Linked DNA regions of Homo sapiens: regions 1, 3 and 4 are each reported to be linked to region 2. Evidence: microRNA targets listed by miRTarBase, many of them from high-throughput screens and not tested one by one. Region 2 holds a microRNA gene; each other region holds the end of a gene's coding sequence. Distances are from middle to middle.
Evidence for each region. The annotated mature microRNA hsa-miR-4645-3p reads AGACAGUAGUUCUUGCCUGGUU and lies in region 2 at 1,073-1,094, opposite strand. An mRNA with a match to its seed (bases 2 to 7 or 8) in the 3' UTR can be bound and repressed. Matches are read on the target gene's strand: a 7mer-m8 pairs with bases 2 to 8, a 7mer-A1 pairs with bases 2 to 7 and ends in A, and an 8mer does both.

Region 1 (3,201 bases), not on the chromosome of region 2:
TAAGGCATTTGAAACCTGAGGCCCTTACTTAAATAAGTTCCATCAAGGTCTCCGATAAATGTCCTCACCCATGGTCATCTGAAAGCTGCTTATATATCTATTCAGTTATATGAATACGAATTTAGTTATATATATTCAGTTACAGTCAAAGTGTCTGTTAATTTGAAATCATTATAGTTTTAGGTTTTCTAGAGATTTAGATTTAGATTTTCTTACCTCCTGCTTCTCGTGGTAACTTCATAACTAAAGTTGAAAACTTAACCAGAAGATATCACAAACTGCCAACCTTATTCTGGTAATTAGGCAAGTCCTCCATGGGGCAAATAATCTGGGGAAGCAAATAAATAAGAAAACATATTTTAAAATATGGAGTCTTAGCAGAGAGCTCAAATTCAACATAATAGTCATCCTTGTTATATTATTTCTGAAATGCTACTCAGCATTCTTAAACCTGTTTTTTTTTAATATATTTTCCAGGCATTTAACAAAAACAACTTGATCCTAGAGGAAAGAAACAAATACTTCAACCCACATCTCACTGGGAAGACCTATTCTAATGCCTACTTTACAGATCTCAATAATTATGATGAGTACTAACAGCTTTCATGTTTTTGGCTTCTTGTAAATCCCCAGTTCCTCAAGGCCTGTGCCCCATGACTGCCCATGTTTCTGAGGCTTCAGAGTCGAAGTTTGGATACATTTCAAGTGCATTTCAAGCCACCAGAGTGTCCCATTGCTGCCAAAAATACACGTCTTTAAAAGCAACAAAAATTGAAATAAGACATCGTGAAAATCTTGACCATTGTTGAATGAGCCAGGGTGTGAAGTTTTTAATTGTGTTCATCCTATTTTTCTGACAAGTCCATTGGTTTGTTTTTTGAGCATTATTTTATAAATGTGCCACCCACATTGGAAGGAGTCTTTCTTTAGAACTTTGGAGTGTAAATCTTCATGATGTTGTAATTCAAGAAAATAGGCACTTTCTCTGAAAGACCTGCTCCTTCCACAAGAAGTGCATAGGTCCATAATATTTCATAAAATGAAGAAAAAGAATGTGGCCAAACAATTATTCACCATGGATTGCCCAACTTTCCAAATCTGGATAAAGCTGTGGGATTCTTGGAAGCAGCTTGAGTGTTTTCATCTTGCCTGGGAAGCCCAGGAATTCCACCTGGTCCACACCGGCAGAAGTTACAGTAGACTGTGAGGCACCCCACCTTGCTCCTGATGCAGTTTCTGTGCCATTGCTGGTGCTGGTGGAGGCAGCGGAGCAGAGGCTCAGGCACAATGAAGCGTGGATGTGTTCTGCAGGTTGCTGCAAAACTCACCTTATTCTGACTTTTGGATTTCATGGCATTCCAGGAAGCTCCTTGCCATGCTGTTGGCCTGGAAGTCCACCTGTCTGGTCCATAGTGACGTCCTGAAGAGCCAGTCTGTAAAATAACCAACCACTTACTTAGCGTTTGGATAGACTCCATGCCTTCTCTCTCCCTGCAAAGAAAAATCTTGAACATTTATGATGTCAATTAGTGAAAGTATTGAAAATACTAAATTATAACTAAAAGCAACTTTTTATGTTATTGAAAATATTGAAAGAACTGATATTAATGATAATCATTTTATTTTTCATCTCTCTGATATACCCAATGTGTGGCAATCAGCCCCTACCACGAGCATTAATACCATGTAAAGCTGGCTTTCTGGAGTCTGCCAGGTCCACACGAAGTGCTACCCCCAGTTTCTGCTGTTACTTGCTGCCTCCAGGCCAGGGGAGCAGGAGATGCTCAGCTCTGGTGCCTTTTCTTTTATTTCAGTGCTGCCTTCCCACCCACCCAGTCCATTCACCCTCACCTCTCCCTGCATGGAGGCAACAGCATTTCAAGATGTACCTTGGGAAGTCAGGATAGCTGGAAGTAAGGGTTTTTGGGATCCCTGTGGTCTCTTCACTGATCATCGATAAGCATTTAAGAGTGTGCTAACACCATTCACAGAGGTCCCTGGAAAAAAATATATAATTTTCTCACAAACAACCAATACATAACCTATGGCAGTTGGTTGAATAATTATTGAAAAAAAGAACACGACTGAAAAAGTTCATCTGATGCCTCTGAGCATGTGATAAAGTCCTGGGTAGACACGGAAACGTGTTCTTACAAATGAACCTTCGGATCTATGAAAGAAAATATAGTAGGGGGACTAAGGAACATAGAATTTTATTAGCATATGTGATTTTACCCTTATCTTTGTTTCTAATTTAAAGAAACAATTTCAGAAAGTGTTAGAAGAATTCTATGTTTAATAATGAATATTGTTGAGTTCAAAATATTCTCATATACCCAGATTTACAGAGATGACACAGTATTGAAATGGCAGGTGGGCTCTGTAAGTTATTTTGGATTAATGACATTCAGGGTCTTTGCAGTGGGGACTTCATGTTGCCTCTCACTCATTCCTCATATGTCAGAGTCTTCTGTCTATATGCACATGCTCAAAGTCCATACTCAGTAGGGGAAATCTAGCCGGATGGTTCTCCAATTGTTCCTCGGCTGGATTTTCATCATCAGATATTTCAACTCATCTCATCAGTTTCTTGTAAGAAAAAAACATTTTCACTTTGTAGCACATTTTAGTTATTTTTGAGTCTTCTTCCCTAATAGTTTGTAAGCTTAAAGGGACATTTTATTTTCCCTGGTAAAGAGGATTCTAATATTTCAAGAATGTTTCACTGGAATTGATGGGAAATGGTTTCTAAATGGCATCGAAGCTGGTCTTTAATGAGTCTTTTGCAATGACTTGGGAAAAACACCCTCCCTCACTACAGGATCTTCATGTTGTTAATAATATAAACAAACCTTTGAAATTAGCATTGCAAAAGAATCCCATTTTTGTTTCGTACCACACTGTTCAAAGGAAAATTGTTTATCTCTCTTCCTTTCTCTCTCTCTCTTATTTGACAGAATAGCAAGTGTTTAGATAATTTCAGATATATTCTAAGTATTTTACCAGCTGTGGAATAAGTTGTGTTTGTCCATCACTGTGTAGCTACCGTTCACATGTTCTGGCTCTGTACTCCACGCTTATCGCGTGAACCCTCACATGTTGGACTTTCACAGTGTGATCTCTCACCTGTCTTGGAAACTCCTTCATAAAGCCGCTCTTCCTTAGGCCTGGGCTGTTTGGAAGTCCTGGTGAAACTTTGCG
Region 2 (3,201 bases):
GCATGTTCACACGGTGCGGTGCTGACTCTCTGTATGAAGTGTGTTCACCTGGTGCAGTACAGGCTCTCTGCATGAAGCATGTTCACACAGTGCGGTGCTGACCCTCTGTATGAAGCGTGTTCACACAGTGCATGTGAAACCAGAACCGACAGTCGAACCCAAGCAGAAGTCTTGACCAAGCACTTCCCTCCTGGGAATGCACCATGATATCACCACACCGAAGTCCAGGCTGGCAAATAGGGACATTTAAGTGACATTTAAGCTCGTGGTGGCCCTATGAGGAGTCATTGCTGACTGAGATGGGATTTTAAGGTGTTGCCTGCCTGTGTGTTCTCAGACCCTCTCCTGAAGCCCCACCCCTTCCCCTGATCCTCTCCTGGGACCCCCCTCCCCTATCCCTGACCCTCTCCTGGAGCCCCCCTCCCCCCTCCCTGTCCCTCTCCTGAAGTCCCCTCCCCTGACCCTGTCCTGGGACCCCCTCGCCTTTCCCTGACCCTCACCTGAAGTCCCCTCCCCTTTCCCTGACCCTCTCCTGGAGCCCCCTCCCCTCTCCCTGTCCCTCTCCTGAAGTCCCCTCCCCTGACCCTCACCTGGGACCCCCCTCCCCTTTCCCTGACCCTCTCCTGGGACCCCCTCCCCTTTCCCTGACCCTCTCCTGGAGCCCCCTCCCCTCTCCCTGTCCCTCTCCTGAAGTCCCCTCCCCTGACCCTCTCCTGGGACCCCCTCCCCTTTACCTGACCCTCTCCTGAAATGCCCTGCCTGCACCATTGTCTTATATTTTTCTCATGGTTAGACTGGGGTTATGGTTTTTTCTGGGAAAGGCCACAGAGGTAAAGTGACATCTCATTGTGTCATATTCAGGGTCCATGCCATCAACATGACTCATCAGTGCTGACGCGGTGATGACCTGGGGGACGCAGTGTTTCTCAGGTTCCCCCACTGAGCCTCTGCAACTCCAGTAGTGACAAACCGCTCCACCCCCCGCCATCCATTTTCTTAATTGTTCAATTGCTAGTATCACATTTCATCAAGAGACGCATAGCAGAGTCCAACCAAGACTCCATGATAGAGAAACCAGGCAAGAACTACTGTCTCGTCGCAACTTGAGGAGACAATATTTCTTGCCTGGTTTCCCTATCATGGAAACTGAGTCCCCCACAGTTTCGTTTCCTCAATCGAGCTAATTACTGAGGTTGCTTAGCAGCCTCCGGAGTGAGCACAGCGGAAACTATCATTAGGGAACTTTGAACGTTTCTGTGAAATGCCAACAGGAAATGTTTCGGCATTTTCAAAATATTTAGAAAATTCCCTGTTCAGTTACAAAAGTGAATCTGAATCTTACCCTGCAGAAGTTAAACTGCTCCCTCTTCTGGATAAAATTACCTTTGTAATTTCTTTTTACAACCTACAGCCTATTGTGCTTGGGTTTCCAAATGGTTTAAAGTTCCCTTGTCCCTTACTTTGTGTCAAGGGGGTGTTTGTGCCTTAAAGGGAAGATCCTGTGCCTTAAAGGAAACCAGAACTGATAGTCGAACCCAAGCAGAAGTCTTGACCAAGCACTTCCCTCCTGGGAGTGCACCATGATATCACCACACCGAAGGCCAGGCTGGCAAACAGGGATGTACACGCAGGGGAGACGAGAACTTCTCCCGTGAGAAACAGCACAGTCCAGCCATATGAACCCACAGCTCAGGAAGTATTGCTCACTTTTACTGTTCTCTCTTAGGGAAGGGCATTCTCAAAACGTTTCCGCACAAGCAGACCATCCCTTTTATTTTCCCCGTCTGTCTCCTTTCCTTCTGCTTTCAAAATGTCTCAAGAGTATTTACAAGAGTTGAGCAACACAGGCATCTTTATCTGGGGTCTTTATCCACAGAGCAGAGGACAGGAAGTCATCACTACAGAGACGAAGCGATGTATGGTTTGACCCAGTGGAGGACTTTGTTAAGGTGGAGGTGTGAGTGTGGAGTGTAAACGTGGGACATCCAGGGCAGTGGAGGGTAACCACTGGAGAGGAAGTCTGGGGACAGTTTGGGAGCAGCCAAATATAAAATAAGCATTTCTGTTCTAAATCCAAATGAACATTCTACGCTGCTGTCATCTCCAGTATACCTCAGAGATCCTAAAGTTTCCTGAAGTTGTTTGGAAGTCACGGCCGATGTAAAGTGAAAGCGCACACATATCTGTAAGCTCTGAGCTCAGGATTTCACGTGAGGTCCTTTGTTCGGGAGGCAGGGGGGTTCTCCCTGTTGCTGGCTGAGGTCACTGCATTCATAGTGTGACAGGAGACAGCACAATACAGCAAAGCAGCTGGAGGGATTGCCTTGTAGAGTGGAAGACCTTCCGCAGAACAGAACGCTCTCTGTCCTGTTCTGCTGGAGAATGAAAAGGGATGGGTGGCCTGCGTGAAACCTCTTTATGGGGCTTGTGCGTTCTGACACTGTGACCGCCGAGGCCACAGCTGCCTTTGTTTCTTCCTCTCTGACCTCCATGAAGGGCTAGCGCACAAACTTGGACAGGGACGGCTCTATCTCTTGGGTGATATTCTGGAAAAGTCAGTCTTGACTTAGTCAAAGGCATCGGTAATTCCCCAACAGCTGAGAGCAGACTCCATGCTGCGGTTTTCTTGTAACTTGAATCGAGGAGACTTCCACATCTTTGCTATCCATTGCGCCTGGCTTTGTCCACTCGCTGACTTCTTCATATATAAGCTCATTTTCCACCTGGAAGAAAAGAGGAGAGAGCCTTAGGGCCCCAGCATTGGGTCCGCACCGAGGCCTACACTGCTCCCCCCATTCCCACCTAGGACCATGGCATCCCAGTCCTCTCTCCCTGTGGGAGGCTTTCACAGAGGTTCACATGGGCCCAGGCCACTATGATTTTCTGAGTCTCCTTGTTTAATAAAGAAAATGAAGTGCCAAATATTGTGGTATGTTTTAAAATTTTGTATTTAACAAGTGATCTTTCAAAAATGCAATGCAATCTAATTGCGCTATTCCGAAGTTAAGCATAGGATTTAGAAAACATTCTTATGGCATTTCTTTCATGGAACATGAGCTTAACTTTTATCATTAAAGTAATTTCTGTCCGTCTTTTCAGTGTATCTGTCTCTGTGACTCTAAGTATAGTAAGATTACTAGGAAATAATTTCAACATTTTAACTTTGAGGCCCTATGTGAGGCCCAAGATAAGCCCCACGCA
Region 3 (3,000 bases), not on the chromosome of region 2:
TTTTTGTGATCCATAATTTTGTCTTGATACATTTTACCTAGAATTTTAACAGTAGGATTTTTTTTTTTTTTTTTTTGAGATGGAGTCTCACTCTGTTTCCCAGGCTGGAGTGCAGTGGCACAGTCTCGGCTCACTGCAACCCTTGCCTCCCAGGTTCAAGCGATTCTCCTGCCTCAGCCTCTTGAGTAGTGGGATCACAGGTGCCTGCCACCACACCCAGCTAATTGTTTATATTTTTAGTACAGACAGGATTTCACCATGTTGGCCAGGCTGGTCTCAAACTCCTGACCTCAGGTGATCCACCCACCTTGGCCTCCCAAAGCGCTGGGATTACAGGTGTGAGCCACTGTGCCTGGCCAACAGTAAGATTTTTTTAGAGTTCTGTCTTAATGTAGACACTAGCTAACAATGTAATTTTGAAGAACTGAGAACTGTGGTTAATTTTGGTTTTTCTTTTTCAGTCAAGTGCTTCTGCTCCTGATGTGGATGACCCAGAGGCATTCCCAGCTCTGGCTTAACTGGATGCCATAAGACAACCCTGGTTCCTTTGTGAACCCTTCTGTTCAAAGCTTTTGCATGCTTAAGGATTCCAAACGACTAAGAAATTAAAAAAAAAAAGACTGTCATTCATACCATTCACACCTAAAGACTGAATTTTATCTGTTTTAAAAATGAACTTCTCCCGCTACACAGAAGTAACAAATATGGTAGTCAGTTTTGTATTTAGAAATGTATTGGTAGCAGGGATGTTTTCATAATTTTCAGAGATTATGCATTCTTCATGAATACTTTTGTATTGCTGCTTGCAAATATGCATTTCCAAACTTGAAATATAGGTGTGAACAGTGTGTACCAGTTTAAAGCTTTCACTTCATTTGTGTTTTTTAATTAAGGATTTAGAAGTTCCCCCAATTACAAACTGGTTTTAAATATTGGACATACTGGTTTTAATACCTGCTTTGCATATTCACACATGGTCAACTGGGACATGTTAAACTTTGATTTGTCAAATTTTATGCTGTGTGGAATACTAACTATATGTATTTTAACTTAGTTTTAATATTTTCATTTTTGGGGAAAAATCTTTTTTCACTTCTCATGATAGCTGTTATATATATATGCTAAATCTTTATATACAGAAATATCAGTACTTGAACAAATTCAAAGCACATTTGGTTTATTAACCCTTGCTCCTTGCATGGCTCATTAGGTTCAAATTATAACTGATTTACATTTTCAGCTATATTTACTTTTTAAATGCTTGAGTTTCCCATTTTAAAATCTAAACTAGACATCTTAATTGGTGAAAGTTGTTTAAACTACTTATTGTTGGTAGGCACATCGTGTCAAGTGAAGTAGTTTTATAGGTATGGGTTTTTTCTCCCCCTTCACCAGGGTGGGTGGAATAAGTTGATTTGGCCAATGTGTAATATTTAAACTGTTCTGTAAAATAAGTGTCTGGCCATTTGGTATGATTTCTGTGTGTGAAAGGTCCCAAAATCAAAATGGTACATCCATAATCAGCCACCATTTAACCCTTCCTTGTTCTAAAACAAAAACCAAAGGGCGCTGGTTGGTAGGGTGAGGTGGGGGAGTATTTTAATTTTTGGAATTTGGGAAGCAGACAGCTTTACTTTGTAAGGTTGGAACAGCAGCACTATACATGAAATATAAACCAAAAACCTTTACTGTTTCTAAATTTCCTAGATTGCTATTATTTGGTTGTAAGTTGAGTATTCCACAGAAAGTGGTAATTATCTCTTCTCTCTTCCTCCATTAGAAAATTAGGTAAATAATGGATTCCTATAATGGGAGCATCACCACTTATTAAAACACACATAGAATGATGAATTAAAAAAGTTTTCTAGGATTGTCTTTTATTCTGCCACATTTATTGATAAACAGTGAAGGAATTTTTAAAAAATTTTTAAGAATTGTTTGTCACGTCATTTTTAGAAATGTTCTACCTGTATATGGTAATGTCCAGTTTTAAAAATATTGGACATCTTCAATCTTAAACATTTCTATTTAGCTGATTGGTTCTCACATATACTTCTAAAAGAAACTTTTATGTTATAAGAGTTACTTTTTGGATAAGATTTATTAATCTCAGTTACCTACTATTCTGACATTTTAGGAAGGAGGTAATTGTTTTTAATGATGGATAAACTTGTGCTGGTGTTTTGGATCTTATGATGCTGAGCATGTTCTGCACTGGTGCTAATGTCTAATATAATTTTATATTTACACACATACGTGCTACCCAGAGATTAATTTAGTCCATATGAACTATTGACCCATTGTTCATTGAGACAGCAACATACGCACTCCTAAATCAGTGTGTTTAGACTTTTCAAGTATCTAACTCATTTCCAAACATGTACCATGTTTTATAAACCTCTTGATTTCCAGCAACATACTATAGAAAACACCTGCTACTCAAAACACAACTTCTCAGTGTCATCCATTGCTGTCGTGAGAGACAACATAGCAATATCTGGTATGTTGCAAGCTTTCAAGATAGCCTGAACTTAAAAAGTTGGTGCATTAGTTGTATCTGATGGATATAAATTTGCCTCCTAGTTCACTTTGTGTCAAGAGCTAAAACTGTGAACCTAACTTTCTCTTATTGGTGGGTAATAACTGAAAATAAAGATTTATTTTCATGCTCACTTCTTAAAAGTCATAAAAACAATCAAATAGGATCATGTTTATTGTCATGTGTTTCCTGGTTTCTGACCTGTGTGCACACCCCTGTGTGTTTATAATTTTTAAATTGAATTTTATATGGGGTTTTTATTTGCTAAAAACCAGGCTGTTGAATCACATTTGGGAAGGGTACTTATCTTAATGACTAATGACTTAATTGGGAAAGTTGAATTCTTGTAAAATACAAAATCCAAGGACTTCTTGGATTTAATCTGATTGTCACTTCTTAGCAGATCACTTTTTTGATAATGAAAGTTAAGCATACTGAATGCTACTTTTGATTGACAAACT
Region 4 (3,000 bases), 30 Mb from region 2:
GCACCGCCTGGGCGGGGTCGGGGCCGTACCTGGGCCTGGGACTCCCACGGGGCCATCCTTGCCGTCCAAGAGAGAGTCTCCCGGAGTGGGCGGGGGCAGCGGCGACGAAGCGAGTGCGGCCACGCCCCCGTCCAGCAGACGTGTCTGGTCCCCACCCAGAGTCCACAAGGTGGAGATGGGCTTCGGTGGAGGTGGAGGAGCAAACTGAAGGGGCAGGCTACTGGGGTGGGGTAGCTTTCGGGAAAGGGAATAAGGAGCACGATGCAAGGGCGCTGTGGCCCCCGGGTGATCTCCCACCACACTTACTGTCTTCCTTTATCTCTGTGGACTTGTATATATTCTGGAAGGGGAACCACAGTTTCACCATCGCCCGCCCATTCTACTACTCAACCCCTCCCCCCCAAGGTATTTCCAGAACTAAACCCTTCCTTTCCCTCTGATGGGTACACTGAAGCCCCTGCTCCACAGAGTAGATTGCACATGGAGGGAGGGAGAGGGGGCGTGTTGAACATCCTGCAGTCACAGGGTCAGGGGTCAGGTGGTTGTAGTCTGTGCCTGAAGTCTGTGTTTGTGTTGTCGTGGAGACAAGGCCTTTGAGCCCCACCCTTGTCCTAGAACCTACCCCCTCTCAAGGATGCGCTCTTTATTTCTACCCTGTCTCTCCCCGCCACCCCCGACTTCCCGTGGAAATTCCCAACTCGGTTCTCATGGAGGAGTGGGTGGAGACAAGGAGGGAGTAAGTCGTAGGAGTACAAGGTTTTTATTTTTTTTAACAGTGATTAAAATATTTATTGGTCATTTACTTGGCTTCCCGATAACCCGTGTGTTTGCTGGGGACGCGGCACAGATAGGGGGAAGCCGGAGTAATGGTTTTCGGGCAAGTGGATGTTGGAGAGCACACACAGGAGTTGGGGGGCGGGGGAGGGCCTGGGGTTGGGGAGGGCTCGAACTCGGGGCTGCTGGGTAGTCCAGGAGGGCGCGGTAAGGCTGGGGTGTCCTGGTGAGAACTGGAGAGGATCTACCCGGGTCCCTGCCTGGCCAGTGGGGAAACACCGGTCCCCCAGGCACCTTCACCTAACCAGAGCGGGGATTTCCACCGCCCCTCATGCCGCCCTTTGGAGGAAAGTGAAAGTGAAAGGAGGAAGAGGAGGCTTCATGGCTGAGGAGGTCGCAGCGCCATGAAGTCCCTGTCTCTGCTCCTCGCTGTGGCTTTGGGTGAGCGAACCCCGCGACTCATCGCCCAAGAACTAGAGGGAAGCGGAGGGAGGTGGCCCCACTGGAGCCGATGCCAGGGTGGGAGTGGGGCAGGTCACCAGACATACAAACCGCTCCTCACTCGCGTCCCTATACGCCAGGCCTGGCGACCGCCGTCTCAGCAGGACCCGCGGTGATCGAGTGTTGGTTCGTGGAGGATGCGAGCGGAAAGGGCCTGGCCAAGAGACCCGGTGCACTGCTGTTGCGCCAGGGACCGGGGGAACCGCCGCCCCGGCCGGACCTCGACCCTGAGCTCTATCTCAGTGTACACGGTGAGTCTCTAGGGACTCGCCGCCCCCCTACCTCTGTCGCCTCCACCGAAACCCCCTCCTCTTTAGATCCGGCAGTGACCTCAGGCCTCAGCTTCCCCTTTGTAAAGTGAGTCTCACTACGGGGTAGTCTGTGCATTTGAAGTTCCCCGAACGCTGCCCTTCCAGCCCCTTTCCCGGCGGTGACTCTACAGCTGCAACTTCCTTCTCTACACTCAGACCCCGCGGGCGCCCTCCAGGCTGCCTTCAGGCGGTATCCCCGGGGCGCCCCCGCACCACACTGCGAGATGAGCCGCTTCGTGCCTCTCCCCGCCTCTGCGAAATGGGCCAGCGGCCTGACCCCCGCGCAGAACTGCCCGCGGGCCCTGGATGGGGCTTGGCTGATGGTCAGCATATCCAGCCCAGTCCTCAGCCTCTCCAGCCTCTTGCGACCACAGCCAGAGCCTCAGCAGGAGCCTGTTCTCATCACCATGGCAACAGGTAGCTGGGGAGGGGAGGTGGAGAAGGGTGGGTAGATTCTAAGGGTCCAGATCAGCCGGTGGTCTCGCTTTATGGACTTGAGCAAGACATTTCGCCAATCGGGGTTCAGTTTCCTTTTTTTGTTAAGAGAGGTGGTTTGGCTAGAATGAATCAATCTCTACCGCTCCTTCTAGCCCTCACCCAGTTAAAAAAAAAAAACAAAAAAAAAACTGCAGCTTGGCAGGGGGTAGGGGGAAAGCAGGGCCGGGCAGGGGGGTTACTTTCTGGTGTTTCGAAGGGCGGGGCTTTGAAGAGGTGGGGTTTCCCGACACCAGACCTTGAGAGACTTGTCAGGTGATGCGAGGTGGGAGGGGTTCAGAAGCAGGAGCGTTTTTTCTCTGCTCTTCCCAGATCTGTGTCTTGCTCTGCACCCTCAGCTTTGCGGGTCACTCTTTCAAAACCCAGCACTCTATCCCCACCTGCGCCCACACCCGGCGCTGCGGCAATCCGCAAAGCAAAGGCTCTTGCACTCTAGCGCGTTGACCTTGCCTGACAGCCCCGTGTAGGGATGTGCTGCCGCTCTGTGGTCCGCAAACAGGTGGGCTCGAGTGGGCGGATGGACGCGGCTGGAGATTGGATAGCTCCTATTGCACTGAAAGGTGCATTGCAGTTTGAGGCCCAGGAGTCAGAAGCTTTTCTAGGCTGGGACGTGGGAGGGACTGTGCAGATAATTCAAGAATGAGGAGAGTCTGACCTGGATATCTGGGAGCTCTCCCTCCTGGCAGCGGAGGCGGGGTATTCCGGGGTAGAATACCGGTAGAGTTCTTAGCTTTTCTATCTGGATTTTATGTCAGCGACACAGCCCGATGGACAGGGCAACCCCAACCAATCCCTGCACCCTCCCTTCCCTCCACCCTCCTGAGAATTACCCACAGAACCAGGGAGACAGACTTGAAACCCACGCTGAAACCCTCACCTCTGCCTATACCTCCATTCTTAGTCTCAAGCCCCCACCCTG

Region 1: miRTarBase lists SEMA5A as a target of hsa-miR-4645-3p. The part of its 3' UTR that is shown has no 7-base or 8-base seed match.
Region 3: miRTarBase lists SERBP1 as a target of hsa-miR-4645-3p. Seed matches in the 3' UTR shown: 7mer-A1 at 620-626.
Region 4: miRTarBase lists ZBTB22 as a target of hsa-miR-4645-3p. Seed matches in the 3' UTR shown: 7mer-m8 at 304-310.

The regions. Positions count from the first base shown.
Region 1 is chr5:9,040,293-9,043,493 of GRCh38, reverse strand. SEMA5A (semaphorin 5A) reads left to right here. Exons shown (of 23, transcript NM_003966.3): 23 at 478-3,201. The coding sequence ends at 597. Among named protein-coding and RNA genes, the nearest start is that of MIR4636, 12 kb to the left of the region's middle.
Region 2 is chr6:2,852,968-2,856,168 of GRCh38, forward strand. MIR4645 (microRNA 4645) reads right to left here and starts at 1,140; the gene lies at 1,064-1,140. It also overlaps the pseudogene SERPINB9P1. RefSeq lists enhancers at 860-1,600, 2,177-2,236, 2,297-2,426.
Region 3 is chr1:67,410,725-67,413,724 of GRCh38, reverse strand. It overlaps SERBP1 (SERPINE1 mRNA binding protein 1), which reads left to right. Exons shown (of 8, transcript NM_001018069.2): 8 at 462-3,000. The coding sequence ends at 518. Among named protein-coding and RNA genes, the nearest start is that of SERBP1, 18 kb to the left of the region's middle.
Region 4 is chr6:33,312,220-33,315,219 of GRCh38, reverse strand. It overlaps ZBTB22 (zinc finger and BTB domain containing 22), which reads left to right. Exons shown (of 2, transcript NM_005453.5): 2 at 1-802. The coding sequence ends at 208. It overlaps TAPBP (TAP binding protein), which reads left to right and starts at 1,142. Exons shown (of 8, transcript NM_003190.5): 1 at 1,142-1,215; 2 at 1,356-1,526; 3 at 1,743-2,003. The coding sequence starts at 1,179. RefSeq lists an enhancer at 1-588.